Homo sapiens: one gene and its partners. The protein of the gene in region 3 purifies or fractionates together with the protein of the main gene of each other region. This does not show direct contact. Each region holds a gene or a part of one and is shown on either strand. Other genes may lie near its edges.

The links.
Region 1: the proteins of RFC5 (region 3) and HLTF purify together in Homo sapiens (affinity purification with mass spectrometry, with the first as the bait; one large-scale study listed by BioGRID). This does not show direct contact.
Region 2: the proteins of RFC5 (region 3) and RRP1B purify together in Homo sapiens (co-immunoprecipitation; one large-scale study listed by IntAct). This does not show direct contact.
Region 4: the proteins of RFC5 (region 3) and HADHB fractionate together in Homo sapiens (co-fractionation; one large-scale study listed by BioGRID). This does not show direct contact.
Region 5: the proteins of RFC5 (region 3) and MYSM1 purify together in Homo sapiens (affinity purification with western blotting; one study listed by BioGRID). This does not show direct contact.
Region 6: the proteins of RFC5 (region 3) and POLD3 purify together in Homo sapiens (tandem affinity purification; one large-scale study listed by IntAct). This does not show direct contact.
Region 7: the proteins of RFC5 (region 3) and NBEAL2 purify together in Homo sapiens (tandem affinity purification; one large-scale study listed by IntAct). This does not show direct contact.

Annotation. Positions count from the first base shown.
Region 1 is NC_000003.12:149,040,889-149,045,351, reverse strand, and holds part of HLTF (helicase-like transcription factor), read left to right. Parts: intron 1-3,061; coding exon 3,062-3,186; intron 3,187-3,671; coding exon of another isoform or gene 3,672-3,683; coding exon 3,684-3,862; intron 3,863-4,463. UniProt on the Homo sapiens protein: Has both helicase and E3 ubiquitin ligase activities. Possesses intrinsic ATP-dependent nucleosome-remodeling activity; This activity may be required for transcriptional activation or repression of specific target promoters.
Region 2 is NC_000021.9:43,672,540-43,677,002, reverse strand, and holds part of RRP1B (ribosomal RNA processing protein 1 homolog B), read right to left. Parts: intron 3,134-4,463; coding exon 3,048-3,133; intron 2,368-3,047; coding exon 2,306-2,367; intron 1,970-2,305; coding exon 1,840-1,969; intron 732-1,839; coding exon 667-731; intron 271-666; coding exon 89-270; intron 1-88. UniProt on the Homo sapiens protein: Positively regulates DNA damage-induced apoptosis by acting as a transcriptional coactivator of proapoptotic target genes of the transcriptional activator E2F1.
Region 3 is NC_000012.12:118,019,356-118,023,818, reverse strand, and holds part of RFC5 (replication factor C subunit 5), read right to left. Parts: intron 4,188-4,463; coding exon 4,051-4,187; intron 2,914-4,050; coding exon 2,834-2,913; intron 1,534-2,833; coding exon 1,460-1,533; intron 1-1,459. UniProt on the Homo sapiens protein: Subunit of the replication factor C (RFC) complex which acts during elongation of primed DNA templates by DNA polymerases delta and epsilon, and is necessary for ATP-dependent loading of proliferating cell nuclear antigen (PCNA) onto primed DNA.
Region 4 is NC_000002.12:26,282,939-26,287,401, reverse strand, and holds part of HADHB (trifunctional enzyme subunit beta, mitochondrial isoform 1 precursor), read right to left. Parts: intron 4,399-4,463; coding exon 4,351-4,398; intron 3,286-4,350; coding exon 3,198-3,285; intron 2,520-3,197; coding exon 2,445-2,519; intron 1,996-2,444; coding exon 1,831-1,995; intron 1-1,830. UniProt on the Homo sapiens protein: Mitochondrial trifunctional enzyme catalyzes the last three of the four reactions of the mitochondrial beta-oxidation pathway.
Region 5 is NC_000001.11:58,675,652-58,680,114, reverse strand, and holds part of MYSM1 (deubiquitinase MYSM1), read left to right. Parts: intron 1-3,058; coding exon 3,059-3,189; intron 3,190-4,463. UniProt on the Homo sapiens protein: Metalloprotease with deubiquitinase activity that plays important regulator roles in hematopoietic stem cell function, blood cell production and immune response.
Region 6 is NC_000011.10:74,637,251-74,641,210, forward strand, and holds part of POLD3 (DNA polymerase delta subunit 3), read left to right. Parts: intron 1-3,313; coding exon 3,314-3,516; 3' UTR 3,517-3,960. UniProt on the Homo sapiens protein: Accessory component of both the DNA polymerase delta complex and the DNA polymerase zeta complex.
Region 7 is NC_000003.12:46,995,990-47,000,452, reverse strand, and holds part of NBEAL2 (neurobeachin-like protein 2), read right to left. Parts: coding exon 4,402-4,463; intron 4,183-4,401; coding exon 3,861-4,182; intron 3,703-3,860; coding exon 3,620-3,702; intron 3,500-3,619; coding exon 3,407-3,499; intron 3,195-3,406; coding exon 3,020-3,194; intron 2,893-3,019; coding exon 2,759-2,892; intron 2,387-2,758; coding exon 2,227-2,386; intron 1,991-2,226; coding exon 1,888-1,990; intron 1,737-1,887; coding exon 1,574-1,736; intron 1,495-1,573; coding exon 1,336-1,494; intron 1,184-1,335; exon of another isoform or gene 1,154-1,183; coding exon of another isoform or gene 1,139-1,153; coding exon 979-1,138; intron 824-978; coding exon 738-823; intron 565-737; coding exon 49-564; intron 1-48. UniProt on the Homo sapiens protein: Probably involved in thrombopoiesis. Plays a role in the development or secretion of alpha-granules, that contain several growth factors important for platelet biogenesis.

The DNA of each region.
Region 1 (4,463 bases), on a different chromosome or scaffold from region 3:
AGGAATAAAGCAACGAAAGGGGATGGGGAATGCCAAAGCTGTTTTAGTAGGGTATTAAGGAAGACCTCACTGAGAAGATGATATATAGGTAAAGATCTAAAGGAGATTGGGATTAAGGGGTGTTTCAGCCAGAAGGAAGAGCAAGTGTAGATGCTCCCAGTTGGGAACATGCCTGGTGAGCTTGAAGAATAACAGAGAAGCAAGTGTGGCTGGATAGTATGAACGAGAGAAAATAGTCATGATATCAGAGATTTATTGGAATGGGGGTATGTAACGCATATGTCAAGGACTTTGGCTTTTACTTTTTATGACAGGAAACCTTAAAGGGTTTTGAGCCAGGAGAGGGACGTAATCTGATTTATATTTTTAAAAGATCACTCTGGCTGCTGTGCTCAGATTTAGGTTATTTGAATAGGAATAAGGTCAGAAGTAGGGAGACCAGTGGCAGTCAAAGCAAGAGATGATGGTGGTTTTTACCATAGTAGTGATAAAGGGAGTGAGAAATGATTAGATTCTGTTAAATTGTGAACGTAGAACCAACAGAACTTGCTGGTTGATATGTTATGGCATGTGAAAGAGGAATCAAAGATAACTTCAAGCCTTTTTACCTGCATAAGTGGAAGGCTGGAATTGCTGTTTACCAAGACAGGTCTATGGGAAGAGCAGAGATTTTTTTAAGCTAAGATCAGAAGCTCAGTTTTGGACACATTGATCATAGGATGCCCGTGAATTTTCCAAGTAGAGATATCAAATAATTAGTTGGATAGGAGAGTCGAGTTCAAAGTCAGCTATGTGTGGATGGTAATTAAAGCCATGAGATCACCAAGGGAGTGAGTAAAGTGAAAGAGATCTAACTGTGAAGATAGCAATGGCTGGTGAAATAGGAGGAAGGAAGCTTCTAATATTTAGCACATGGTAGGCACTCAAAAGAGATCTCTTAAATTGAAATGCTGAGTATCAGTAAGATATGACCATGCCAGGGAATAATTAGTGTTAGTAAAGGTTATTCTATTTGAAAAAGTTGAAAAAGATTAACTTTATTGAAACTGTTCTCAGAAAATAAGTTATTTTTAAAGTATTCTTTTTAATAGGCTATATATTTACTAACATTTATTTAGCACTCACTAGGTGTTATACATTGATCTTAGTGCTTTAAATGTATTCACAGCAATCCTATTAGGTCAGTATAATTATCCACATCTTATAAGTGAGGAAACTGAGGCACAGAGCAGTTTAGGTGACTTACACTGTTGTCACACAGCTAGTGAGTGACAGGACAGATTAACTCTGGCACTTTGGTTTAGAGCTTGTAAGTTTAATCTTTGTATTATTTTGCCTATTCCTTGCATTCTTGAATATTCAGAAATGTTTGTTGCCATAATACTACCAGTACTAATACTAGCAACAGATTCATGTATAGCACTTAATATAGTCCAGGCACTATTTTAAATACTTTACATGTATTAAATTAAATAACAGTAGTTGTATGAGGTAGGTACTTTTACAATGCCACTGTTAGAACTGAGGAAGCTCAAGACATAGGTTAAGCAACCTGTCCAAGGTTACATAATTAAATTGGCACAGCCAGGTTTTGAATTCATGACCAGCTAGCTCTAAAAATTTGTACTCTTAGCCGTTAGGCTATATTTCTTCTGTTGCCTTAAAATACTTAAATATCAGATGGCCTGGTTATATAATTTTTGGATCACCCATTTCCTTAAGAATCTATGTTGTCATTGTACCACTGTATTTTGTATAGAATGTTTCTGTGGGGAAGCCTGGTTTTTTTTTTTTTTTTTTTTTTCCCTCTGAAGTTCAGCAACTTCTTTGTTGACTTTCCCCTGGGACATGTGATATTATTTAAATCTTTAGATTCCAGGCTTTTCCCCCCTTCTCTTTCCTGGAAAGCTTTCTTTAAATATTGTTTTCTGTTCCATTATTTTATTTCTCTCTGTGTATGTTAGATGTCTTTTATCTGTGTTCCATAGGTATCATTTTATTTCTGATCTTTTACATTTTTTTGTTTAATTTTGATTTTCTCAGTCCTGTTTCCTACATCCTTTTCTATGTTTTTATCAGTGACTAGTCTTTTTTTATATTGGCTTATATTGGTTTCAGTGTGACTTTCATTTCTCTGATGATTCACTGTTTTCTTTCACTTTCTTGAGCCATACCAGCTCATCTTTCATCTCTTCCTGTTCTCTTGCCATATTTTTTCAAAGCTCTTTGTCTTTGCTTTAAGATTTTTTTTTTTTGGAGGAATTGTTTTATTGAGTGGTGTTAAATTGTGACAGTATCCTTGGTCATAATTTTTATTTGCTCTGTGGCAACATTTTTCTGCTGAGTTTTCTTTCACTGCCATGTGTCCCCTACCTTTGCTCTCTGCTGATTATTACTTATATTTGAATATCTTGAGTTCTTCTTGGACTAGCTATTTGCTAGTCCAGATATACAAAAGGGAAAGGTCACAATCATGTCCCCGACCAGCAGGAAATAACCCAATTTACTTAAGACTCAGGGTTACATGTTGAGTTACTTTAGGTTTTATTAGTACACATAAACAGAGATCAGAAACTTTAGGGGTGCTTGGAGTGTAGAGTGCTGTGCCCATAGTCTTTTTTTGAAAATACAGTGCACCTGTATGTTTCTGTATTCAGTTTACCTTCCCTCTTTTTTTGATATAAATTTCTCCATGGAAGCTCAAGTCACCAAGCATGCACCCTGTTCCTGTTTCTGCACATGAGAGGTATTGATTTTCCCCTCAGGGCATGCCATCCATTTTAAAGAATTGTGTTTTGGCAGCTCTGTTTGAGATCTGCAGTCATCCCTCTCAGCATCTTCCTATCTGACTTAGACTGCAATTGGCAGCCATTTCTCATATATTGTGCCTTATTGTTATAGATCTCTCTTGGTTTTATTAGAGTTGCTTTTCTGCTTTTCATTCTTGTTTTGGAGTAATTTCTAGAGAAGAAAAGAAAAATGCCATTTTACTCTGCTGTTTTAGAATAGGAAGTTATTATTGTTTAGCGGACTTAATAATATTTGACATTTTAATCTCTAGGTATTTTAATGAAGGGACTGTCCTGGCACATTATGCAGATGTCCTGGGTCTTTTGCTTAGACTGCGGCAAATTTGTTGCCATACTTACCTTCTTACAAATGCAGTGTCTTCCAATGGCCCCTCAGGTAGGTAAATTTGATTGCTTCATATCATTGTATTTGTCAGAGATACTTAAATAAGAGTGATAAATTTTTTTTATGTGGCATACATTTAGTTTATTTTGTTCTGTCAAATGGAGATTGCTTTTAGTGTGAGACTCAGCTAGGAATACATCCAATAATTTTTTTACCAATGAAATGGAATTATAATGAGGTCTTTCCAGGAATTCCGGTGATAGATACCCTTTGATGAAAGATTCATATTGGATCTGCCTTTTATTGTGTGGTGGTATGTTATTGTCATGTTATAATGATGCTTCTCTATGAGGTATATTATGTGAGTTGGCTACTATTTTGGCTTCTGAATGTTTCTTAAATTTCAAATTTAAATTATGCTTTTTGCCTATGGCAGAAAATGATGAGAGACTTTCCCTACTGGCAAGCGAAACTTTTCCTTATAAGATAGATTAACTTGTCATATTACAAACCTTGCTCTGAAATTAATTTTTCAGCCTTTTCTCTAGGAAATGATACACCTGAAGAACTGAGAAAGAAGTTAATAAGGAAGATGAAGTTAATTCTGAGCTCAGGTTCAGATGAGGAATGTGCAATTTGCCTGGATTCTTTAACAGTTCCTGTGATAACACATTGTGCACATGTATTTTGTAAACCCTGTATTTGCCAAGTCATTCAGAATGAGCAGGTTAGTTTTTTGCTCAGTACAGGTTCAGTGTTTGATAGAGTAGTGTACCTGTCTTTAATATAATAAAAGATAGTATATGGAGTTTTGCACTTGGATTTAATAATATACCTTTGATAGTTAATTATTCCAGTATTTTAATAGGTGATATATTTCTTCTAATGCAACATTTGCAACATAAAAAGATGTTCACAGTCAATATCTTAATTCCGCTGTTTATATCATTGCTGTTCAATAAATGGATTGATAATGTGAGACACAAAGATAATTTTCAGTTTTCTAGTAGTCATACTCTTAAGTAAAAAGAAACATTAAGCTAATTTTAATACATTTGTATTTAACCCAATATATCTAAAATATAAAAAGTATTAATGTGCTTTTTACAAAAAACTAAATCTTCAGAATTTGGTGGTGGTGTATACTTACAGCACACCTCAATTTGGCTTAGCCACATTTCAAGGACGTAATTGCCCCATGTGATTATTGGCTATTGTGTTGGATAAGGTAGGTCTAGATTCTTTTGTGTGGTAGAATTTTTTTGAAGTTGACTAGTCTGTTAAGCAGTCATTCAGCTGGGGTAGAATTTTTTTAAACATTTTAAATT
Region 2 (4,463 bases), on a different chromosome or scaffold from region 3:
TAAGATGCCAACAAATGTATTAAAAACTGTTTGTCTGAGGAGGATTTTAGCAGAAAGAAAGCTACACTGACCAAGAACATCCTCCTACCTGTCTTCTTTTTACTGACAGCTCTTCTCAAGGATACCTCATTTTCAGGTATCTCCTCAGCAGAGAGGTCACCATCACCCACTTTTGTCTTCTGTTCCTCCATCGTCTCTTCAGGCACAAAAGGAGACTGATCTACGATAGCTTCGAAGACACCCCGAGCTATGGTCTGTACCAGGGTGTGGCTGAGGGTAGAAGCACAGCGGAGAGCATGTGATGAGAACAAACGGCCTGGCCTTCTGGCTTCAGGGGCACAGAGGGAAGCCCTGCACACGTTGCTGTGGTCTGGAGTGGCCCCCACGGGCCAGCAAGCATCTGAGAGGAACTGCCTAAGTGCCACCCGACAGGCACGGGACGCCCAGCGGTCAGATCTTTGGGTGTGGGAGGGCATTCCTGGAATGAGTGAGGCAAATACTGAAGCTAGAAGAGCCAAATCACTGCTCAAAGCTTCGGCTGTCTTCTCCAGCCGCTCTCTGCTGTGAAGCAGTGTCCTGGGTACCCTGTGCCAGGCTGCACGACGGCAAGTAACTCCCATGAGCAAATGCCACGGAGCAGGAGGAACGAACAGGGGAATCACTTACTCCTTCGTCTTCGCAGCAATTTTGCAGAATGGATCGATAAACTTGAGATTCTGATCTGCTAAAAGCTGTAATTTAGAAAAAGGGAAAAATTGAGAAAGAGCCTTTCCCTTCTTGACATGTCCTTGAAAAAGGGACCATTCCCATCTTTTACAAAGGTGGAGTTAGACCAAGCAATGCCTGTCTCACACAGCCCCAAAGCGCCCCTGTGGAATGCCACAGAAGCCTGGAGCCAGGCTGAAGACTGAGGCCGCCCTCCAGCTACTTGGTATCTTAGTGCAGTGGCTGGAGAAAGCCACCCAGCCTGACCTGCACTATCCTATATGCCCAACATATACAACACGGGTGTCCAATCTTGTGACTTCCCCAAGCCATAATGGAAGAATAACTGTCTTGGGGCACACCTAAAATACACAAACACTAACAACAGCTGATGAGCTAAAAATAAAATAAAATAAAATAAAATAAAATAAAATAAAATAAAATAAAATAAAATGCAAAATACCCCTCATATTTTAAGAAAGTTTATAAATTTGTGTTGGGCCACATTCAAAGCTGCCCTGGGCCCCATGCAGCTCTCAGGCTGCGGGCTGGACAAACCTGATACAGGACATACATATACTTCCTCTACAAGAGGGGTAACAGGGACAGTGCCTCCAAGTGTGAGACAAAAGAATTATTGTTTTGAATATAACATATTTTCTTTTAATCAAAAAAATACATGTTCCCTGCAAAACACCTGTGAAAGAAAAGTAAAATCTGTGCACATTCCCACATTCAGAGAATCATTTGCATACTAAAAAATGTATGTTTCCTTTCCAGCCTTTTGTCTATTTATGAGTATATACCTTAAAAATGTCTACCATTTGCATAGCTTTTCCTAGCGCTTTATAAAGCTCCCTAGATCCTGAGTACTCCCCCGTGTTAGTGAGTTCTTTAGTGGAGTCTGTAGGTTGCTTTCAATTCCGTTTTACAGGTAAGACTGTCATGTACATCCTCAGTGCACAAATCCCATCCCACCAGCTGCTTAGGACACATTCCCAGACAGGACTGAAGCAATTCACGCTGCTACAGTCGCTGGTCATGCGAAGGGCCACCCCACAGCACTTCACTGGCGACTACTGCGAACACTGGCGGCCCCCTCACCCCGTGGGCAGCCTGTCGGCAGCTGCTTACCTCCTTCCCCCCGACTTTGGAGAGTTCATCCAGGTAAATATCAATGAAGTGGAATCTCACTCCATTAGGAGACTGACTCTCAGGACACAGGACCTCCTTCATCAGGACATCCAAGAAAACCTTGATTCGGCTAAAGAACCAAACGCATGCTTCTGTGAATGACAGTATGCCAACACGTCCCACTTCCCAAAGAGAAACAAAAATACTCCGTCTAGAACCTACACAGCCTAACAATCAATGCAAGGCTGAAATCATTTTACAAGGAAAAAAGCAATCACTTAAATCAGGATAAAATGTTAACTGTCATATATACTTAACTGTTTTATGCCTTCTACTGGATTTCAATTCTCTATAGGTAACGATGTATCGAGCTTCTCATTGGTACTCTACAAGTTCAGAAAACTTGACACTCTACTACCTTTTAAGTTTTAAGGCTACCACATGCTAACTCAAATGGTTTACTGACCTTTCTTCCCAGCCATTTCGCTTCAAGACTTCAAAGGACTGCCTCAGGACCAGACGAATCAGCTAAAGAAAGGCAATTTTTGTTTAAAAAAAAAAAAAAAAAAAAAAAAAAGGAAAGGTAAGAAATATTAATCAGCTCAGCAGAATGAAGGGACCAATGAAATTGTTATGGCCTGGATCCCAAAAGTAAAAAAATATTCACAACAGTCATATTTACCTTCTAGATCAAAAAACATATTCATAGCCAAGAACAGTGGCTCATGCCTGTAACCCCAGCATTTTGGGAGGCTGAGGTGGGCAGATCATTTGAGGCCAGGAGTTCAAGACCACCCTGGCCAACATGGCAAACCCTTATCTCTACTAAAAATACAAAAATTAGCCAAGCATGGTGGTGCGCGTCTGTAATCCCAGCTACTCAGGAGGCCGAGGCATGAGAATCACTTGAACCCAGGAGGCGGAGGTCGCAGTGAGCTGAGATCGCACCACTGCACTCCAACCTGGGGAGCAGAGCAAGAGAGACTCTGTCTCAAAAAATACCCAACGTATTCACTAATGCTCCCCAAACTCATCCTTAAGAACTGCAAAAGCCAAAACAGAGAAGCTTTCCAGGACACATTCAAATTCTTCCTTCACACTAAGCCTGTGGCTTGTTTTGCTTCACAAATAAACCTTCCCATTGTTTTTAAGATAAAGGACATTCTTTTCTTCCCAGGAGTTTTTGAAGTAACTGCGGCAGATCTTACCATATAGTATTTGTCCAGGCGTAGCCTGTCTATTCCTTTCCATTCTCGATTCATGGTTTGCCAAAAGGTCTGAATGAACAGGTGTTCTGCAGTGAACAAAAGGCTCTAAATACTTGGCTTCCACATCAACATACTACCATATAGCAAGAAAATAATGAAGAGGAACAAACTAGCATTATTTATTATTCACTTTTCTCAGTAATTCTTGGGCAGCTAGAAAATCTGTTGATAATTAAATATACTCAATCATTTCTTTTACACTTATTTATTAAACATCACTTAGACTGTGCAGATCTTTTACTTTTTTTTTTTTTTTTTTTTGGAGACGGGGTCCCACTCTGTGGCCCAGGCTGGAGTGCAATGGCATGATCTCAGCTCATTGCAACCTCTGCCTCCTGGGTTCAAGTGATTCTCCTGCCTCAGCCTCCCGAGTAGCTGGGATTACAGGTGTGCACCACCACACCCGGCTAATATTTGTATTTTTAGTAAAGACGGGGTTTAACCATGTTGGCCAGGCTGGTCTCAAACTCCTGACCTCAGGTGTTCCACCCACCTCGGCCTCCCAAAGTGCTGGGATTACAGGCGTGAGCCACCGTGCCTGGCCTTGGTCTTTTGAATTTAAATAAAAACAGAATAACCGGAAGGGCTGGCAACATTGCAATGTCAGATTTGAGCGCTCTCTGGAGCATTTTTCCTTTATCCACTGCAAAGCCACGTTTCTTTTAAAATCAAGACTCCTTGTTCCACTTCTAGTAACTCTTCCTACTGCACTGGTACCTCACAATCAGTTCAAAACCATTAATTCTGACACTTATATAATCCATATAGAAACTCATATTTTTGTCTGATTATAGGTGGCATCTGGGTGAGCTACGGTACAAAACACTGAATTTTTCTCTTCTGACCCACAGAACTAGCACTTTTTTATTCAAAAACAATTTTTGTTGATTTTTTGGCTTTATTTCTTTTTGCACAATTCTTTTTTCATCTTTGTAAATCTATTATACATCATATGTAGAATTTTGTTCAATATGAGTCAGCTAATATTCAGAGCACCACTGGGGGTGGTTGAAATCATTAGGATGCTTTTCTGAAGAGCATTAAGCAGAACAAACGAAGTCGGCTACCTTTTTCTTCCTTTATAAGCAATCAACGCCTGACACAGAAGCACCCTAACTAATTTTTTTTCTCTATGGTTGAGAGGAGTTACTTCATAGTCTGTGACCGGTGGTGTCTTCTATGTATTTATTACCAGTGACGGCTCTGCTCTTGGGGAAGACGAACCTGGCATCCAGAGGTCACCGTGGACCCTGCATCTGGCTCTCCAGGCTCCAAGTGTTAAAGTAACTCAGAATTTGAAGATTCTGGAGGATTGTTATTTCTAAAAGCATTTTCTGAAATCTTTGAGATGTCAAA
Region 3 (4,463 bases):
TGAGACTTCTTGTCCTTTTACATAAAATTATATTTGGCAGGTTGATGACACTTCACCTTCTATGGGCAGGGAGGGCGGCTTTTTGCAGACTTTTCCATGGAGACTGTCTGGAGGCCTTAGAGCACTCAAGGGAGCAATAACCCGAACAAAGAGTTGCTTATGACACCGGTTCCATTCTGTAGGTACCCAATGTTCTCACATGGGGATCTGCCCAGAATGACAGTCACTCGGCAGAACAAGATGCCGAAGAAAGGCTGCCAAGCTTCTAGGACCAGAAGATATTCTCGCTGTCCTCCTCCTCCTCCTCCTCCCCCACCTCTCCTCCTCCACCTCCCCCTACCCTCCTCCTCCGCCTTCTCCTCCCCCTCCTCCTCCTCACCCCCTCCTCTTCCTCCCCTCCTCCCCCCTCCTCCTCCTCCCCCTTCCCCCATCCTTCTCTTAACATGTGCTGCCATCTACTCCCTCGCCACAAACTCCTAAAGATCGTTCTTCTCTCAAAGCTGATTCACTTGGAATCTTAATGAGAGATGACAAGTGTCCTTTAAGAGAAAAGAACTGCGCTAGGCCCCTGAAGACAGACAAATCGCAGGGTGCTGTCCCTCCCGCTGCCAAATCATTCACTTGGCAAGCAGTGAAGTAATATCAGCTCTCTGAGCACCTCAACTTCAGATATGCTTTTCCTAGCCATTGTGGTTCAAAGGGTACCATTAGTAGAAAGGAGAGGGTACTATTAGCAGAAGGACTATCTGATAGCTTAAGGATGAAAGATTTTCCACACCCCATCCCACGGAAAGATATGAATTCCCAACTCTGAAATTGAACCCAGTGTCAAAGGAGGTTGAACACCAGTGACTGGCCAGACTTAAAAGTCCCCGCAGGGCTTAGTCCCTAGGCTGCTGAAGGGGAAGTCCCGCTACAGAGGTATCTAGCCTGTGTCATTAGATGGGAGACACAGAGAAAGGCATAGAGATTTCTCTGGGCCAGAAGATGAAAACTGAAAACAAGCCAAGCCATATCTCACATCCTAATTCTCCTGTAATCCCAGCACTTTGGGAAGCTTAAAGTTCCTAATTCTCCTGTAATCCCAGCACTTTGGGAAGCCGAGGCGGGCGGATCACCCAAGGTCAGGAGGTCGAGACCAGCCTGGCCAACATGGTGAAACCCCATCTCTACTAAAAATATAAAAATCAGCCGGGTGTGGTGGTGCATGCCTGTAATCCCAGCTACTCAAGAGGCTGAGGTCAGAGAATCGCTTGAACCCAGGAGGCAGAGGCTGCAGTGAGCCAAGATTGCGCCACTGCACTCCAACCTGGGTGACAGAGCAAGACTCTGACTCAAAAAAAGAAAAAAAAACTCCCCCCCGCCTAAAAAAACAATGACAACAGCAACAAACACAAAGTTCCTAATTCTCCTTCCAGTGTGCACACCAGCCCAAACGCTCCACAGTGCCTCTGCTTACCTCTTCTCAAGGCATTCTGGGCGTCCTGAGTCATGGCGTCTGCTTCATCCAAGATCACTAGCTTAAAGCCTTTCCTAGAAAAACAAATGGTGCTGTCTAAAGATTTCTTCAATCTCATCTCAACATCTGGGCTCAAACCTATATCTTCCCATTGTGCCATCGGGCCCTGTCTCAGAAAGACAATTTCTTCTAGAACTTTGGCCAAGGCAGACATCTTTGGTCACTCAGAGAGGAAATGCCGCATCACTCCTTCAACCCTTGGTGGGAATGGAGGAGACTTCTCTACTTCTGTGCGCTGTGTCCTCTGGCATCTTCACTTTCCTCCACATGGCACCCTACCATGCTACTGCTTTTCCCGTCTCCCTCACTCATGCCTGAGTCCCTCACCCTTTTGCTTTTTTTGAGACTAAGTTTTTGCTCTGTTGCCCAGGCTGGAGTGCAGTGCCGCGATCTTGGCTCGCTGCAACCTCTGCCTCCTGGGTTCAAGCGATTCTCCTGCCTCAGCCTCCTGAGTGGCTGGGATTACAGGCGCCCACCACCATGCCCAGATAATTTTTGTATTTTTAGTAGAGACGAGGTTTCACTATGTTGGCCATGCTGGTCTTGAACCCTTGATCTCAGGTGATCCACCTGCCTAGGCCTCCCAAAGTCCTAGGATTACAGGTGTGAGCCACTGCGCCCGGCCCTCACCCTTTTTCTTTCTTTCTTTTTTTTTTTTTAGCCACCATCCTAGTTGTCCTTCCTGATCTCAATTTATTTTTAAATTCAAACTAGCTCATCCAGTCTTAGGGTAATCTAGCCAGTTCTCAGGAACTAAAAATGAAGTTAATGCTCCCTAAAGAACTTGGTAATGCAGGCTGGGCTCACGTATGTAATCCCAGCAGTTTGGGAGGCTGCGGCGGGCAGATTGCTTGAGCTCAGGAGTTCGAGACCAGCCTAGGCAACATGGCAAAACCCCATGTCTACTAAAAAATACAAAAATTAGTTGGGCGTGATGGCTCACGACTGTAGTCCCAGCTACTTAGGAGGCTGAGGCTGGAAGATCGCTTGAACCCAGGAGGTGGAGGTTGCAGTGAGCCGAGATCATGCTACTGCACTCCAGCCTGTACGATACAGGGCGACCCTGTCTCCAAAAAAAAAAGAAAAAAAAAACAAACTTGCTAATACAAGCGTAGATAACATTTTATTTTAACAGTTGCATTATAACGCTTCTTACTACCATCCCTCTCGTTTATCTCTTTTCCATGGTTGCTTTGGACAAAGTCACTTTTTTTTTCAACCCATATAAACTGGCTAAGGAGAGGATTAAAAAATTAACCCATATCATCTTACTAATCAAAATCAAGGGAGCGAAATTACACAAATAATTCTTACTTAAATATTGTCCTTGTGCTAGCAAAGCTCAGGATCGGTCCTCGAATGATGTCTATTCCTCGGTCATCTGAAGCATTCAGCTAAATGTGGAAGACAGAAGACAAAACAAAAACCATGTTGCTGTGCTATCTGTGAGTTCTTGGTGTTAGTGTATTTCCTCATCAGTCCAGCTCAGCAGGCTAGCTCTCTATGTCTAATGATGGCTAAGAGATCATCATAAAATAAAAAATCAGTTTTACACAAAATTCACTAAATTAATAAAGATGGCTATATTACCCCCACCCTTTGAGGACAATGACTGACATAAATTGGAGAAATAATTAATTGGTATGGTTACACTGAACAGCACCTCTGGTATGAGCAGAATGATACAAATTTCAGCTACCACAATCCTAAGTTACCAAGTTCTTAATAAACTGAAATAAGGACATTAGTAGCAGCAAAGTTCTGAGACCTGCGTCTAAAAAGTAAGTTAAACTTTTCTTGCAATAGACAATACTCAGATTTTTGAATCTAAGTATATTAGTCAAGGTCCCAGCAATATACAGATGGCATACTCAAATGCAGCAATTTGAAGAGAATTAAACAAGATCTTTTTAAAGGTGTGATATAGGAAAACCATGGGGCTATGCAATACCTGTCACCCTTGAGCCTGAAGGGCTTAGTGAAGGGAGTGGCTGTAGGCACCTGGAGAGGGCTGCAGGAAAGGTACCACCTGTGAGATGTACCCTACAGGTGGGCCATGCTGCCAGCCTGTGTCAGCCCCCAGGGAAGGCCCAGGCATCACTCACTTCCTTCCCCCACCCCTGCCAAGGCCCCTATTGGCCAAACCCAACCAGGAGCCAGAGGGTAAGTGAGCTTATAGTCAGTAGGGCTCAGCCTTCCAGGCAGGAATATGGTGGAGAAACGTGGAGAATTGATCTAGAGGGGCCATGGCAGACAGGCAGCAACCAAGTCACCATAAAGTAAGGTTTGGGGAGAAGTTGGCAAGAGCAAAGAAAAAGGTGCCAAACCCTACAACTGCCCTCTAGCTGACCAACGCTAATCCAGACCAAAATGACCATTATAGGAAAAAGGGAATTAAAATATTCAAATTTACTTCTTTCCTAACTGTCCGTGGGGCAACTTACTTTTAAAGTAAAATAAAACCAGCAGAACTGAAATTAAGAGACTGGAGTCTCTTAAGTTATTTGTAGAGTAAGAACAATCTTATTTACCTCCAAGACCATGGAGCCAAATTCTTTGTCTTTATATAGCTGTTTCGCACAGGCTAGGATGGTAGATGTCTTGCCTGTCCCTGGGGGACCGTAGAGAAGCAAGTGTGGCAGTCGGTCTTCATTGATAAACTTCTGAACTGAGGATCAGGAAGGAAGAAGGGCACCATCAGTCTTTGGGAGCTGCCTCATTCACCCTGGGCTCCTGAGTTGGGCTGAAAGCTCTTCAACCCAATTCAATGTCCAAATCAGAGGCAGATACAACTTGATGTAGGGGCCTCATATCTACTTTCGTGGAACAACTGGAATTCACTCAATAGCGCAGCCAGTCAACAAGTATTTATTGAGTGCCTACTGTGTTACAGGCACCTTTCTGGGTGCTGGCAACATCTGTGAACTTAAATGATTCTCCGTAA
Region 4 (4,463 bases), on a different chromosome or scaffold from region 3:
GATAGAGGGATCGCTCTAGTCTTAATGGACCATGGTTTTCTGTAGATGAAGTTACACAGATTAAAAAGCATTTGTGATCATAAAGTCCAAAATGTTCCAACTGATAAATAACTGACCCCTTGGTTTCTGCAAAGTCTCTGAGGAAAATCCATGAAAAAGGGCTTTTAAACGTAAGATTTATTTCATTTACTTTATTTTTGAGACAGAGTCTCTCTCTGTCACCAGGCTGGAGTGCAATGGCGCCATCTCGGCTCACTGCAACCTCCACCTCCCGGGTTCAAGCGATTCCCCTGCCTCAGCCTCCTGAGTAGCTGGAATTACAGGCGCACACCACCACACTAGGCTAGTTTTTATAATTTTAGTAGAGACAAGGTTTCACCATGTTGGCCAGGCTGGTCTCGAACTCCTGACCTCAAGTGACCTACCCGCCTCAACCTCCCAAAGTGTTGGGATTACAGGCGTGAGCCACTGCACCCGGCCAGTTTATGCTTTTAAATATTTATTCATTTTGATCAGGAACAGGAAGTTTCTGTAATCTAGAGGAAGAGAAAATCTGTTCACATCGGGATTAAAAAAAAAAAAAAAAAACAAAAACAGGCCAGGCACAGTGGCTCATGCCTGTAATCCCAGCACTTTGGGAGGCTGAGGTAGGCGGATCACCTGAGGTCAGGAGTTCGAGACCGGCCTGGCCAATACGGTGAAACCCCGTCTCTACTAAAAATACAAAAAAAATTGCCCGGGCTTGGTGGTGAGCACCTGTAATCCCAGCTACTCAGGAGGCTGAGACAGGAGAATCGCTTGAACTCGCGAGGCAGAGGTTGCAGTGAGCCGAGGTGGCACCACTGCACTCCAGCCTGGGGGACAGAGTGAGACTCTGTCTCAAAAAACAAACAAACAAAAAACAAACTACAATCTTCCTTTTGGATTTTATTCCTAGAGTGAGATGCTACAGCAGTCAGGAAGTTGGGTCTCTAATGCAAGTGAAGTAGAAAGGAAAAAATCTGTCAACAATATATTTCCCCAGCTGAACAGCAGTAAGTTATCCAGAAGTAAATTAACTCCCCAGTTAAGGTATAATTCAGTTCTCTAGAAAGATAGTTTCTCTCTTGGAGAGATTTTATAAAGTCTTATGGTGACTAGATAAATAAAAGTTAATTATTAAAGAAGAAAATATATCAAGATGTTAATAATGTTAATGTCTGATGGGGAGATTATAGATGATTCTAACTTTTTCTATATACTTTTCATATATTCCACAATTTTCATAATCAGCATATATTTATAAGTAAAAAATAAACATTATATTGGGGAAAAATAGCTTGGGTTTAAATAGCTGTTTCCTTCCAAAGAATTATCAGAATTATGGCAGGGCATGGTGGCTCATGCCTGTAATCACAGCACTTTGGGAGGCCAAGGAGGGTGGATCACTTGAAGTCGGCAATTCGAGACTAGCCTGGCCAACATGGCGAAACTCTGTCTCTACTAAAAATACAAAAATTAACTGGACATGGTGGTGCACACCTGTAATCTCAACTGCTCGGGAGGCTGAGGCACGAGAATCACCTGAATCCGGGAAGTGGAGGTTGCAGTGAGCTAAGATATTACCACTGCATTCCAACCTGGGTGACAGAGCAAGACTGTCTCAAAAAAAAAAAAAAAAAACCCAAAAAACAAAAAGTTTTATCAGAATTACAGCTGTTATCCCTCCCCACTCCCCACCCCCAGGTCATCAAAAATATTGCTTTAAGAAGGTTTCAAACTAAATCATACATTCTAGTCATTCCAAGAAAATGACTCTCTGGAGGGTCCTATGACACCACTGTAACGTACCTGCCCTCCAGCTGCACACGCAGCCACTAAGCCATACTGGCCTCCTTCTTTCCGTAATCTGTTGGCAGCAGCCATGACCAACCTGCAGCCAGTGGCTCCAAATGGGTGTCCCAGGGACAGAGATCCACCCCAGTTATTAAACTTCTCCAAAGGAGGCAATCCAACCTGGCTCCCCCAAAGACACAAATGTAAAGATAAGTTTACTTAAGATCAGAATCAAGCTAGGCTCTTAGTACTACGAAGTAAGAGAGATAGAGGAAAATACGTAACGTCAGACATATTACAAATAATTTTACTGCAAAAGAAAGTAAGTCTAGGTCAATATTAAAAGTCAGGAGTCCATTTATTTTTCATCTAATGTCAGAATGCAAGGAACAAAAAACACAGAATTTTATTTTTGCTAAATAATTTCTATTTTTAAACTAAGAAATAAATATATTTAATGAAATACAAGAATTTCTACTTTTACACTAAGAAATAAATATCTTTAATGAAAGACAAAATTCTTCAAAAGAAAGAGAAGCTTTCCCTTCATATTCTTAAGAACAGGTAACTAAGATCCAATTATTAACGTGCTTTGAAAATTCACGCATTTTTTAAAATTAGAAACTCACCTTGGTTTTTCTACCCATGTAGTTTTCTGCAAACCAATCAGAATCCATGGCTTTAAAATTTGCCAAAATCTGACCCTGGAAGAGAAAATAATCGAATAAGAACCTCGTTATTCATGTTCCTCTACGCTTTCTTATAGGAATGGTTTGTGAAAGTTTAACAACTTTAGGTATGGTTTAAAGTTGAACAAATCGGCCAGGCACAGTGGCTCACATCTGTAATCCCAGCACTTTGGGAGGCCAAGGCGGGTGGATCATCTGAGGTCAGGAGTTCAAGACCAGCCTGACCAATATGGTGAAACCCTGTCTCTATTAAAAATATAAAAAAAATTAGTCGGGCATGGTGGCAGGCGCCTGCTTGTCCCAGCTACTCGGGAGGCTGAGACAAGAAAATTGCTTGAACCTGGAAGGCGGAGGTTGCAGTGAGCCGAGATCGTGCCACTACACTCCAGCTGGGGCAACAGAGCAAGACTCTGTCTCCAAAAAAAAAAAAAAAAGTAAAGTTGAACAAATCTTTGTATCAGTTTTCAATGGCAATTTCCTAAAGAAGCAATTTGGTATGTTCTCCAACACTGTATGTGTGGCCCTTGCTTCCCTCCCCTCGGGCCCCTCCCAGCAGTGTGAATCAGTACTTAAAATATGCAGGTCCACTCCTGCTCTACTCACATCATAAACCATGCCTTGCTCTCTCCCACAAATATGGATGACATTTTTTATGACTATAGTCCCTTCATATGTGTCTTTCAAATTACTTACCGAGAAAGCTTCATGAAATTCAAAAGCATCAATATCATTCATGGTCAATCCTGCCTTTTCTAGAACTTTTGGAGTAGCATATGTTGGTCTGCAAAGAAAAAATAAGTAATATCTTAAAACTTTAATTTTTAAACTAAGAGCTCCTTCATATTCCCCAAACTGAGTTTTACATAGGTACTCTAATGTCTTTTCACTCATTCTTTGATTTTTCTGTACTGATTAATGAAATGTTAAAGATAAAATAGTGAAACTGTACAGACATGCCCTCTACTCTTATGTTGCAGAGTCAGAGAAATTGATAATAAATAAACAGTGAGGGATAAGGACAAGCTAATAACATGAAGAACTGGAAGAACAGAGTTCAAAGAGCAAGGCAAGGGAAAGGGCTTGACTGATGTGAACGTCACAGTGGAGGCTAGAGGCTACAGCCTTGTGAGGGAACGGAACAGAGTCTAAACATGGGGAGGCTTTTATAAAAGGCTATATTAGGAAGATTGTGTAGCAGGGTGTGTAGCCATATGAAAAAATGCATATGCTATCTTAATGAAAAAGAATATAAGTTGTGTGTGTCCATATATATATGTAAAACTTATAGGAAAAAAATGGAAAATAATCCAAAACTGTAACATGATATACCAATGGAAAGGATTACTACTATTTTATTTATTTATTTATTTTTTTGAGATGGAGTCTCGCTCTGTCGCCCAGGCTGGAGTGCAGTGGCGTGATCTTGGCTCACTGCAAGCTCTGCCTCTCGGGTTCATGCCATTCTCTTGCCAAAACCTCCCGAGTAGCTGGGACTACAGGCGCCCGCCACCACGCCTGGCTAATTTTTTGTATTTTTAGTAGAGATAGGGCTTCACCGTGTTAGCCAGGATGGTCTCAATCTCCTGACCTCGTGGTCTGCCCACCTCGGCCTCCCAAAGTGCTGGGATTACAGGCGTGAGCCACCGTGCCCGGCCAGATTACTATTATTTTTTTTAAAAAAACCACCACATAAACCAATTATGAACTCAGGGCTTAATATACTCTCAAACCAGTGTAATAAACAAATAAATAATAAACCAGTGTTAATCATTTATTAACCAGTATAATAAAACATAGGCAATCAAATACTTGTGATTATAGTCCAAGGATACAAACTGCTACCTACCCAAGTAATAGTTGATCTTTTGGATCCTGAGACACATACATAAAATCCCTAGGTAAAAAAATAGAGAGGTGAGCTTTGGTAATAAAATAAAGAAATCAGAGATGATTTGTTTG
Region 5 (4,463 bases), on a different chromosome or scaffold from region 3:
AAGGACCTTGAAATCATAACTAACTCAAAAATGTCCATATTGGTCAGGAGTAGTGGCTCACAACCTTTTTTTTTTTTTTTTTTTTTTTGAGACAGAGTCTCACTCTTTCTCCCAGGCTGGAGTGCCTTGGCATGATCTCAGCTCACTGCAACCTCTGTCTCCCAGGTTCAAGTGATTCTTCTGCCTCAGCTCCCATGCAGCTGGGACTACAGGTGCGTGCCACCACGCCCGGCTAATTTTTGTATTTTTAGTAGAGACTGGGTTTCACCACATTGGCCAGGCTGGTCTAGAACTCCTGACCTCAGGTAATCCACTCACCTCGGCCACCCAAAGTTCTGGGATTACAGGTGTGAGCCACCACGCCCGGCTGACTCACAATTTTCATCCCCGTGCTTTTGGAGGCTGAGACAAGAGGATTACTTGAGGCCAGGAGTTCGAGACTAGTTTGGGCAACATAGCAAGACCCTGTCCCTACAAAAAATTTTTTTAAAACTTAGGCGCGGTGTTGTGTGCCTGTAGTTGTAGCTACTCAGGAGACTGAAGCAGGAGAATCACTTGAGCCCAGGAGTTTGAAGCTGCAGTGAGGTGGGATCATGCCACTGTACACTAGCCTGGGCAACAGAGCAAGATCCTGTCTCTTAAAAATGTCCATATGAATGATCACTATATTCTTGTTACTTTAATCAAATTCTATATTTGTTACTTTGAATTTTGAATTCCAAATGAGGCAGATTAATTTATATAGGTACTATAAATTACATGGCAATAGTTTCCTAAGTCATTTGCCTTGGTTCATGAAACTGGTTAGGTATTGCTATTTCATTATGGTGATTTAGCAGAACATTGTGAAAGCAAAAATTGTTTTGAACAGGAACTCACATTTGTTCAGAAATAGAAGAGAGTGAGTGGTTAGGCACTGGAGGTGGTGTTAAAAAAAAATAGAAGAGTTAAAGTTTTGAAATAAAAAGAAGCCTGCCAGATTTGTTTATAGATAAAGATTCTTTTCATAAAAGCAGATGCAGTTGATTCCCTGGTTAGGGGAATATTTTTATTAAAATAGTAACCAGTACCATTACTGAATGCCTCCCGAATACCATGTACTGTACTTAAATCATCTCCAATCCTTTTGACAACCTCGTTCTCACTTTATAGATAAGAAAAATGAGGTTCACAGAGGATAAAAAACTTTTCCAGGTCACACTAGGTAAAGGAGATATTGGAGTCTGCAGTCTTGACTCATTATTTTCACACTTCCAACTCATGGCCTTGACCCTGACTTTTCACTCTGCTTTGGATGTTCTTCCCCCATATTTTGTCAAGTGTTGCTTTCTTGTCTCATTGAAATCTGGTCGAGGGAAATTAGAGGCTTATCTAAAATATCTCACATATCTCCTCCCTTTCATTCTCTTGCCCTGTATTTTATTTTCTTTATAGAACTTATTACTACCACAAATAATTACATTTTTATTTGTTTACTGTCTCTTCTCCCCTCAACCCCCATGATAATGCAGGCAACATGAGGGCAGATTTTTATCTGTTTTGTTTGTTGTTGAATCTAGTTCTTAAACAATGCTCAGAATATAGAAGGTACTCTTATTTGTTAGGGGGAAAAGATCGAACATGAATCATTATTCCATGAACATATTTTTAGAGTCCTTACCATTTGTTCAGCACTGTGCTAGATTACTGAGTTCTGTTTAAAGCCTTTTACTTTGAGTAGTCTTCAGTTAGCTCAGTCTAGTTTTTTCAGACTCCTTTGGTTTCTTGGTAGCCATACTCTTGCCTGCTTTATTGCTTTCATTTGTACAATTTTGTTTCATTTTCTTGCAAGACACACTGAAATCTCAACGTTTCTATGGAAGGTGTGGTACCCTCCCACATCACAAATTATTTTTACCCTCTATTCTGCTTAGTGAGGCCTAGCCTAAGCACCCTATCTATCTAAAGTAGTCTATGCCTGTTTGTCCCACTCTATCCCCTTGACCTTCTTACTTAGCACTATTGCTACCTGAAAGTGTAATATATATGGTTCATTGATTATTGACAGTCCCTCCCATTAGAATGTAAGATCTGTAAGGTTAGAAATTTTACATTATCTGTGTATCTCTAGTGCTTAGAACAATATATTCATGGAATAAAATAATGATCGAATGAGAAATACCCATGTTATATGAGATATCTGAATACCTAAATTTATAATATCTATACTTGAATCCTGATTATGTCCCTTCCTTAAGTAAGTGCTTTACTCTGACCCCCTTGCTTCCTCATTTCCAAAATGAGAATAATATTAATAAAATCTACCTTGTATAGTTGTAAAGATTAAGGATGTGTAACTCAGCACAATAATCTGGCTTAAGCATTCAGTAATTAGTTTCTACTAAGTTCTTTATTACTCGAATTTTATGTTGTACCATCTAGCAAGGTACATTAAGTATATTCAATAAATACGTGTTTTATTATATAAACCTCTTATTTCTTTCATAATCTTTGGGAGTTTCTTGATTTCCCCTTTGGAATCCCTTATAACGTCTGTTTCTGTTTTCCACTGAGAGTAAGCACTTAATATTTGTTGTCATCATAATTAAAAACAAATATAAAATGTTTAAGCATTTGTAAGATAGCTGATAATTGAAAGACACTGTTAAGCAAAATAAGAGTAGATGAATCTAAGTAATATATTACAAATTGGAAACGTCTAATACTAAATCTTTTCTATATATTATCAAACTGCTCTTTGTATTTAAAGATTCAATTTGTGTCTGTACATAAATTTCTGAATTCAAGGTCCTGGGATAACTGGAATCTATGAATTTAACATTGGGGAAGAAATATTGCTTGTAAAAAATTATGCTAATAAGTTATTGTATCATTTAAGGATATTTTATTTCAGAAAAAAAGTACATGGGTATTATGTATTAGTATTGTATTTATTACACATTTATACATTGAAAGGGGTTAAAATTTAGAGATATTTCAAATATTGAAAGTTTTCCCCAGAAATCTTTTTTCACGTTTTTATTTATCCAAAATAATTGTACTTCTGTCTCTTAATTAGGGAGATATGCAAACCAAAATACTTAAATAAGACCTCAGTACGTCCTGGCCTGAAGAACTGTGGAGATGTTAATTGTATTGGACGGATTCATACATACCTCGAATTGATAGGAGCAATCAATTTTGGATGTGGTAAAAATAAAAACCCAACAACATCTTTTACTCGACATTTTTTATCCTTACAGCACTTATTCATTTCTATGATGGTTAGAATTCAAGTAGTTATAGGTATATAGAATTCAGAGGTGCTGTAACATTATTTAATAAATGTTTTATTAAGATTTTACTGTTGGTTAAACTGTGTTTTCATTTGACCTACACTGAAAATTGAGAGTGTAACTTTAAAGGTAAAATATTCAATCTAAGTAATAGAAATAATTTAAGAATACAGTTCTTTAGCAGATAAAAGTAAAATTATTTTATGAAAAGTCTAATAATAGCCCATTTAATTTGCAAATACTGTATTCATGCTAGAAATACTACCTAGCAATGTTTAAATAAAGGAAATAATTTGTGAGCCTCTACACTTACATGTGATAAAAGCGTCAAAATATTTTTTGTGGAAGACAATTGTACCTTAGTTTTTTTCAAATTTAAAGTTAATGAATATACATATTTTAAAATATATTCTACTCTTTTTTTTTTTTTTTTTCTCGCTCTGTTGCCCAGGCTGAAGTGCAGTGGTGTGATCTCTGCTCACTGCAACTTCCGCCTCCCGGGTTCAAGCGATTCTTTTGCTTCGGTCTCCAGAGTAGCTGGGACTACAGGCGCATGCCACCACACCTGGCTAATTTTTGTATGATTAGTAGAGACGGGTTTCACCATATTGGCCAGGCTGGTCTCGAACTCCTGACCTCGTGATTTGCCCGCCTCAGCCTCCTAAAGTGCTGGGATCACAGGCGTGAGCCACCGCGCCTGACCTCTACTCTTTTATTGAATTAAAATGACACAACCATTCATAGCTACAAAGTGATAAGGTACATAAAACCTTGTAACCCATGGTTTAAGAAGAGTATATTCTGTGTTTGTCTATGAAAGGGAGACAACTAACAAGAAGATTTTCTGTCAGATATGATTTTCTTTTATATTGAGCTAGATAGAATTTAGTTTGCCCGGGAATCTGTCCTTCATTTCAGTGTCTTTGTTTTCCCAAAGCCTTGAATATTGAGACTAGCTTTTCAGGAAAACTAAAGGATTTTTGCTTCCTCAGCCACCAAAAGAAAAATTAAATCATGTTTTCTGTATTAGACTGCCAAAGTTAGCAAACTACCCATTTTCTAAATATTCCATTTATTAAGATTTTCTTATAATAACAGCATTACTTTTAATTTGAGGGGTGCTCAGTAGCACATCAAATGTATGATCGTGAAATAAGAGTCATAGAAGCCCCACTATAGTCAGTGTAC
Region 6 (3,960 bases), on a different chromosome or scaffold from region 3:
TGTGCTCCCTGTCCCACTATTCCCCACCTCCCAGTCCTCTGAAAAGGCCTCTGCCATTTTAATTGTAACATGTGATTGGGGAGTAAAATTCTTTACGTGTGGAAATTCTGTCTTTTCAGTGCCAAATTTCTTGTGAACCTGTGAATTCTGGACTTTGAATGGGTTTTTTTTTTTCTTTTTCTTCCTTTTTTTTTTTTTTTTGGCTTTCAGTCTTTTAATAGTTGCCATTTTCAAGCCTCTTGGTTTGGCCATGGGTGATAATATATGTGTTTACTGTTGAATTTCTTAATTCAACAGTGCATTTTTTAAATTTAAGAGGACAAAAACATTGGTGCCAGTTTTTTCCTCCTCTTTCTGCCCCAAAAGAAAAAAGTCAAACGTCTTTGTGAGAGTGAGAGTTCATTGGGAATTTGTGGGTAATTATTTATTGCTTTGTTTAAAATATAGTACTCGAGTTTTGGCCAGGTGTGTGATGTGGACTTTTTTGCACTCCTGTCTCCAGACAGGACTGTTAAGAGCCTTGGATGCAGCAGTGAAAACTGTGCTCACATTGCACTTTTTTTTTTTTTTTTAAAGGTTTTTGGTCCAAGCTCAACCTAATGAATCTTGGCTTTGGTTACCAACAAAGGAGTTCTGCTTTCCTCTCTCTGCTCAGACTGTTCCAAATGTACCAGCATAGGGGGCTTGCCCTGTCCTGTGCTGGATCAGATTTGTTCTATGGGTTTAGAAAGCTCATCTTTCTCTCTTTGTGACTTTGCAGCAGAAATTGGGTAGTTGGGCCCCTGAGATAAGTTTGGAGTAGACTTCTGGACAAGGGAATGGGTTTCTAAGAGCAAAGCAGTTAAGTGGAAAAGAAATCTGATGTTACCCACGAAAACCAGGTTTGTTTGCCTTTTTTTAATGGCAACCCAGAAAAGTGGCATGTTGTTCAGCTAAAATAAAGGCCCTATATTTTTAATGGAGACCTCCTTTTTTCTGGGGTTTGCGGTAGCTACAGCTTTGAATATAGAAATATTCCTTTTAGTTCTTACAGTATACTGAATATGCTGCTAAAGAAATTTTGTTGGTGCTGCCCTGACTGTTTTTTAACTCCCCTGAGCAATGTCTCACACAAAATTGGCAATGAGACAGCCATTGATTTCATTAATAAGTAATGAAATAATGAGCTAATTGATGCTGAAGTATAATGTAGACATGCTGCCATTTGAGTACAGAATATAGCTTATGAAGGAGCAAAGTCTTATACCACCAACTAGTAGAAAGTAATTTCCTTTCTGTATCTGTAGATGGCTCTTCAGACTTTTCTAATTTAAGATATTGAATAAATAACAGCTCGTAATTTTGTCCCATTAATTCAGTTACATAATGCTTTTGAAGATGCATGTGAGATGGAGGTGGTGTTCTGGGGTCTAATTGCTGAACGAATAGGTATGCCATGGGAATTCTCTAATTATCTTAGAGCAACATTTCTCAAACTTTGCCGGCTATGTGCATTACTTGAAGATCTTGCTAAAATTGAAATTCTGCATCAGTAGGCCAGGAGTGGGAACTGAGAGTGCATTCCTAATAAGCTCATGGGAGATTCTGTTGCCTCTGGTGTGCGGAGCACAATTTGAGTAGTAAGGCCTTTCAGAATACTTAATATATATCTAAAATTTATCAGTATTTTTTAGCCTCTAAGTGAACATCAAAGTGAATTCTGGGCTCTTACAAAATTAAAGACAAACTCTGGGAACTCTCTGGGAAGGGATTGTTGATTATGCAGCCTTAATGGGATTAGCTGGATAAGAGGGACGGAATGCTCCAGTGGCAATTGCACTTCAACATTTAAAACAGGGAAGGAGAGAACATTAATTCCCAGAGTGTGGTCCCCAGACCAGCAGCATCAGCATTATCTGGGAGCATGTTAGAGAAGCAAATTCTCAGGTCCCACCCCAGATCTGCTGAGTCTGAAACTTGAGAAACAGAATCTGGCAATCTATGTTTTAACAAGCCCTCCAGGTGGTTCTGATGCACAGTAAAGTTTGAGATGATATCTTAAGTAGCAGAGTAGGTATTGGGACACACATACATTTGATTCCAAAGCTTATGCCTCTAGAACAATTTGATATATTTTATTAGAAAGAATTATCAATAAAAGCTCAAGACTGTCATTGTTCTTTAATGGAAAAAAAAACCTTTTACTTTAATCATTTGAGCATTTATTATGCATATTAGGTTACGCTTTTCAGCTAAGAACAAGCTCTTTTCCTTCAATGTTTCTCTATCGCTTGCTGCAACCAGGAAGGCTGAGAAAGAATTTAGATAGCATTGGTTATACAGCTGCCACAGCTCTCTAAAATTACAGAAAGGTGGCATGCTGTTTCTTGTGGTTGGTATATGTGTTGCAGTAGTGTAGATCCTCCTCGGTTATGTGACGTCATGGCTGGAAGCCACTATCTGTGCCTGTGTCCTTTGGGGCTTGCTCATAATGACTGCTTACTGTTACAGTTCTTTTCCAAGTTTCCCTTGGGAAGGGTTCAGTGAGTTTTAATAGCAGGGGAAAAGCAATTTATGCCTTCGGCTGATAGGGAGTAAGAAAACTGGTAACTTTGTTTCTCAATTTATCACTGTCATTCCTTTAACACGTGTGTCATCCGATAGCATTTGCTTGAGATAGTTAACCTTCATGATACAGACTACTACTAAATTTTGGGTTAATTTGCAGCCATTAAGAACTAAGAACCGAACAGTTGAGTAACTAATCTTCAATTCTCTGTACCTAGGATGTGCAGAGAGTGGGTGGCATCAGGTTAGAGCTAGACAGGAGGGTCCATGGTGACCTTGGTTAAACAGAATGGAGGCAGGCAAATAGGCCAGCAGTTTAAGACCAGTAACGGGAATAGGCAGGCATTGTAGGTCAGAGAGGTGATACTTAAGAAGCCAGTCAAAGCATGGAGTTAGAAGTAAGTGTTTAAGATATAGACAATTCGGATATAGAGTTCAGGAAGTTAGCCAGCATAGGCCAGGACCCAAATAAAGGATTTAGGCAATTCACTGATAAAGGGCCATTTAAAGGCATGGGATATAGCTGTGAGGGAGAAAAGTGAACGTTAATTCTAAGCATCAAATAGAGACTGTGTGAGCTCAGGATCCCACATAGTTCCTACCTTAGGCTAGATCTGATCTCCCAGTGGGAGAAAGATTGAGTCCTAAGTAAGCATATTTGCCTTGATCAGAGTCTGAAATGATTGGGGTTAGCAAGACATCCCATTTTCTTCATAGAGTAAATGATTCAGCCCACCCATGTTCCATTTTTTTCTCATCCTACCAGTGACTGAAAAAGTCTACGAGAGTGAATCCTGCACAGATAGTGAAGAGGAGCTTAACATGAAGACATCCTCAGTACACAGACCCCCTGCCATGACTGTGAAAAAAGAACCCAGAGAGGAACGAAAGGGCCCCAAGAAAGGGACTGCTGCTCTGGGCAAAGCCAACAGACAGGTGTCCATTACTGGCTTCTTCCAGAGGAAATAAACTGCCATCTCTGGTAGATCAGAGACTTGGAGTGGTCAAGGGAGAAGACCAAGAAATGTACTCCTCACTTACTATGTAAGTTCATCTAGATCTCCACCTCACCTGTATCAAAAGACTGTTCTTTCATCCTGTGAGGTTTATACTATTTCTGGTTTTTAACCAAAAGGAAATCATCTGGAAGCAGGAGGCAAAAAGCTGTTACCTTCTAATGACATTTAAAAAGCACAGTCTTTGACCTGTCCAGGAGAAGGATTTACTCCAAAATTATACTGGAACAGTTTTCAGAATTCTCACTGAAGCCATTTAGTGGCTAACCCACTGTGCTCCACTCACCCTATGCCCTGGTCCGCATATGGCACAGGAATTATTCCTTCTTGTTCCTCTGTATTCTAAGAATTCATGTGGGTGTTTCTTATCCTTACATTCTGCTGGATACGTTTACCC
Region 7 (4,463 bases), on a different chromosome or scaffold from region 3:
TGTCCTCCCTTGGGTACCATGCAGTGGCAGAGGGTGGGCCCACCTCACCTGTGGGTTGCTGGTGTTCGAGGTATCATCCCCGCTAATGGTGGGCTCCGGGAGGCTGCCGTCCTCCAGCACATTGGAGAGACTGGAGCTGTGGCGGCCAGGAGCAGCAGGAAAGGGCCGCGGCCCATCCAGTGGCGAAGGAGTGCCGGGCTGGCTGGCTGGAGTAAGAGTCCCACTGCTGCCGCCACCACCAGCAGTGTTGCCTGATCCTACACTAGACCGTTCCAGGCCCAGGTCAAAGGGCGTGCAGAATGGGGAGAGAGCATGGTAAAAGCCATCAGGGTCAGGGCAGGGGGCCTCTGAGGGCAGGAAGACATCTGAAGGCTCAGCAGGTGACTCAGTGGGTGGCTTGGGTGGGGCTGGCTTGGGGGAGGTAGGTGACTCTGGGGAAGACGGAGGGGGGCTGCCGGCTGTGGCAGCCTCCAGGACATATAGCCGGGTCAGCACATCTTGCCAGCCAGCCTGTCGGGCCAGAAGCCGCACTACATCTGGCTGTCCGTAGATGAGGTGGAAAAGCTGCAGGCGAGAGCACAGCAAGTGAGGACGCATCCAACTGCCTGCTCCAGACCCTCATCCAGGGCCTTTGCAGAGGAGGGCTCCAGAGACCCCTCATGAGACAGGCAAGGTGGAAGGCCAGAGGGTAGAAGCCACCCTCCCCCTCCCCCAAAGCTTTTACCTCTCATGCTCACCTGGCGACAGATGTCTAGGCGAACGCTGAGGTCAGCCTGGAGGGACAGCTGTACCACAGCCAGCAGATCTGAGAGGTTCAGGCAATCTGGGGGGATGGGTTGGGGGGACCTGAGGGACTGACCAGACTAGAAAGGGCAGGGCCCAGCCCTGGCCCCTATGCCACTATCTTCCTTCTTCCGGCCTGCCTGCCCTGTTTTTCTGACATGTCACCCCCTCCACTTGGCCTTAACCAGGTTGTACCTGCCCCCAGGAACAGCTTGTAGAGGCCCTGGCAGAGCTGGGGGGAAACAGTCCCCTCAGGCAAGCAGGCAACCAGACCCTGGAGACCACACTCCCGCAGCCGGAGGCGCTGGCGGCTCCGCTCAGGTAGCCGCTCATTCTGCTGCAGTCTGCGCAGGATCTGTGTGGGGGTCATCGGAGGACTGTCATCATGTGGAAGGAGTTACTGTAGGAGGGGAAGTCACCGTGCAGGTGTGTGGCTCAAGAGGCCCTTGAAGGCAGCTTCATCCGCTGGCCCAAGGCCTGCTGTACCTCCCTGAACCCCAGGCAGGGGCCCCAGTGAATGGGATGCCAGGGGAGGGGGTGGGCTGGGTGTACCTTGCAGACTCGATCGGGCAGCAGGGGCAGTGACCCTGGCCGCACTAGCAGGGCCAGTAGCACTTCGAGGTTCCCTGGCTCCAACAGAAAGACAGCCAAGGACTCCTGCACCAGGGAACCGTGCAGCAGGGCCAGCAGCAGGTCCAGCGCACCCACCGCCTGGGGATGCAGGGTCTCACACTGTGTCGGGCCCCCACTCCCCTCACCCAAGCCTCCCGCTCCCCAACCTCCAGCCTACCTGACCGTCATCGCCTGTGGCCGCCAAAAAGCTCAGCATGGTCTGCGTGACCTGCACGTCATCTGCTGAGAGACTCCGCACCAGGAACTCCCTCGCCAGGCCCAGGAGGGAGGTCTGCACGGTGCGTAGGTCGTCAGCAGCCAGGGGGCGCTCCCGCTGCGGGCTGGCAGGTCAGTAGGCACACCCAGCCAGGTCCCAAAGAAAGGCGGGGAGAGAGGGTGGGCAGGTGAGTCAGGGAAGCGCACCGCCCAGTCCCCAAGGCCGGAGGCCACTGTGTCAGCCCCCCATGGCCCATCTGGCCCCACTGGCCTCACCTGTAGTGGGTGCGCAGAGCATCCAAGATAAACTGGACGCCGTACTTCTTCCGCAGCTTCTGTCTGTGCTCCCGAACTATGCTGGACATGTACTGGATGTGACCTGAGCGGGAATGAGCAGAGGGCTCAGGCCACTAGGCTGAGCTGGGCCCTTCAGATCCTCCAGGCCAGGGCCATGTGCCTGTCAGACTTCCAGGGCAGGGTCATAGTCCCCTCAGCCGCCCCATGGCATTCTGGATTCCTAACAGGTGAGTCCCTCAGATCCCCCAGAGCAGAGTTCTAACTTCTCAGTGCTCAGCTGCCCTATGGCCGGCCCCTTGCTCAGGTCCTCACACCTACCGAGGCGCACGGCGAAGTCACTGAGGGTCCAGAGGTGAAAGTTGAAGAGCAAATGCTGGTAGAGTAGGTACAGGAGGGGCCCGCTGCCCTCAGCTGCCACCTGCTCCATCAGCAGCTGGGCGGACATGAGCACGTTCATGTCCATGGCCCAGCTTGGGACCTGGGATAAGACAGGAGCTGGAGTGAGGGCTCAGGCTCTGCCTGTCTGCTGTCTGAGCTTTTCAGCTGCCACTCTTCCCTGCACAGCCATGACGGCCACAAACATGGCCACCAGCCTGCTCAGAACCCTTTGGGGGCTTCCTGCCGCCTCTGACACGCAAGCCTCCTGCCTGCTGTGCGGGTCCCTGCCCCGACCTGTGCTGGGCCTTTCCCCAGATCCTCCAGACCCAACCCTGCTCGGCCTTTCAGGCCCCACTCAAGTGGCAACTCTCCCAGGAGGTTCTTCATGACTGACAGGGTTCCCCACTCAGTCCCCTCGGTCAGACAGGCTGACCATACCCCTAACCCCCATGCCTGTCCCACCGGGCCCCACCTTTCGCAGGAGGGCCCCGATGATGGCAGGCCCCTGGCACTGCACCAGGCTCTCTTGGTTCACCATGTGACCCTGAAGGAAGTTCCGCAGCATCAGCAGAAAAGCAGCCACTGCGTTCCTCTCCATCCGTTCCTCTGCCAGCCATCAGGAAGGGGACAGATGTGTGTCAAGGGCCTGCCAGTGGCCAGGAGACCTTGGGCATTCCACCCCCCTACCATGCCAAGATTCCCTCTCCACAACATAGGCACCAGGAACACTTACCTGAAGATTTACCCAATGGGAGAACCAGGCCCTGGGTGTTGTGACCAGAGGTCAGTTCAGGACCCACGAGGTCATGCGTTTCAGCTGGACCTGCTTCAGCCTCTTTGGGCTGTGCAGCTACTCGCTCCAGCAGGGGCAGCAGGGCACCCATACCCCCAACGCAGTTCACCACATCCTGGGGGAAGGAGGATGGCAGTGAGGGGGACCTTCCAGCCAGTTTCCTGCCCTACTCCACCCCAGCAGACCACCCAGAAAGGAAGTTTTGCTCTCTTGAGCTGGACTGTCCAAATCCTCCCCAGGCACAGCGCTGCTCCCCAGCTGACTCCGAACACACATGTGCCCCATATTCATGCCTCCTGCACACACCACCCACACGTGCTCACAGACCTTCACATCCCAGGTCTCCACTCTGTGGCCCGTCAGGCGCCCATCAAGCCCATGACTGGGGGACAGGTCCAGGCAGATGTTGTTCTTACAAGCCTAGGGATAGGGGAATGGGCAGGCAGCCAGGGTCAGAGGGAGGAGGGGGTGGCAGGCAGAGTGTGGGAGCCGGGGAAGTAGCACAGTCGAGCCAACCACTCCCCTGGGGCCCCCAAATACCTGAGGTGAGTAATGGAGGAGCAGCCTGGTGCTGAGCTCATGCAGCTCCCCCTCAGGCTTGAAGGGTGCCGTCTCATTGGGCCCTGGGAGGTGGGCAGGGGGCTTCAGACCTTGCTAGGCCTCTGGCCAAACCCCATCCAGAGACTGCCTGACCACAGGAGAGACCCCCAGAGATGCCTTCTCCCCCCGGACCCCTAGCTTCTGGCCTGGGGCTGTGGCAGAGATGGAGAATGCTGCATACCCAGGGTGCACAGGGTCCTCAGAGCCGTCGCCTGCAGGGCTTCGTGAAAGATGGCCACAGCCCCCAGCTCACCCTCCAGGGATGTGGGGCTGCCCCACCGAGTGTCCTGGGTGCCTGCGAGGGTAGAGTCGATGCTGCCCTCCTGCAGGGGGGCCACCAGCCCGGACCCCCAGCCAAGCCCTGTGGAGGCTGGGACTGACTGGGAGCGGGTGAGGGCGGGGTGAGTGTAGGCCAGGGTGGCGGGGACTGGTGGTGTGGGCAGCCCTGTGGTGGTGGTCGTTGTGCGGTATCCAGCGGAGCCGATACAGCAGGAGGAGAAAGGCTGTGGGGCCGGGGTTGGGGGAGCGGTCAGGTCACAGCAGAACCTGGGGCTCCGCCTACAACCAGTTCCTCACAGTGACCCCCATGGCTGCATGGACCCCAGTGGCTAAAGTCAGGCCTGTGGGGCAGCACGGGACACAAGGGCTCCAGGCTACACCTGCCCACTGTGTTCCAAGTCCTCCCATCTACCCAAGGCCTCCCCAAACCTTGCTTGGCACACCTCACTGAGGGAGGGGCAGCGAAGGGGTGCTGTCTTGACCAGATGGCCGTCTTTGTAGACAT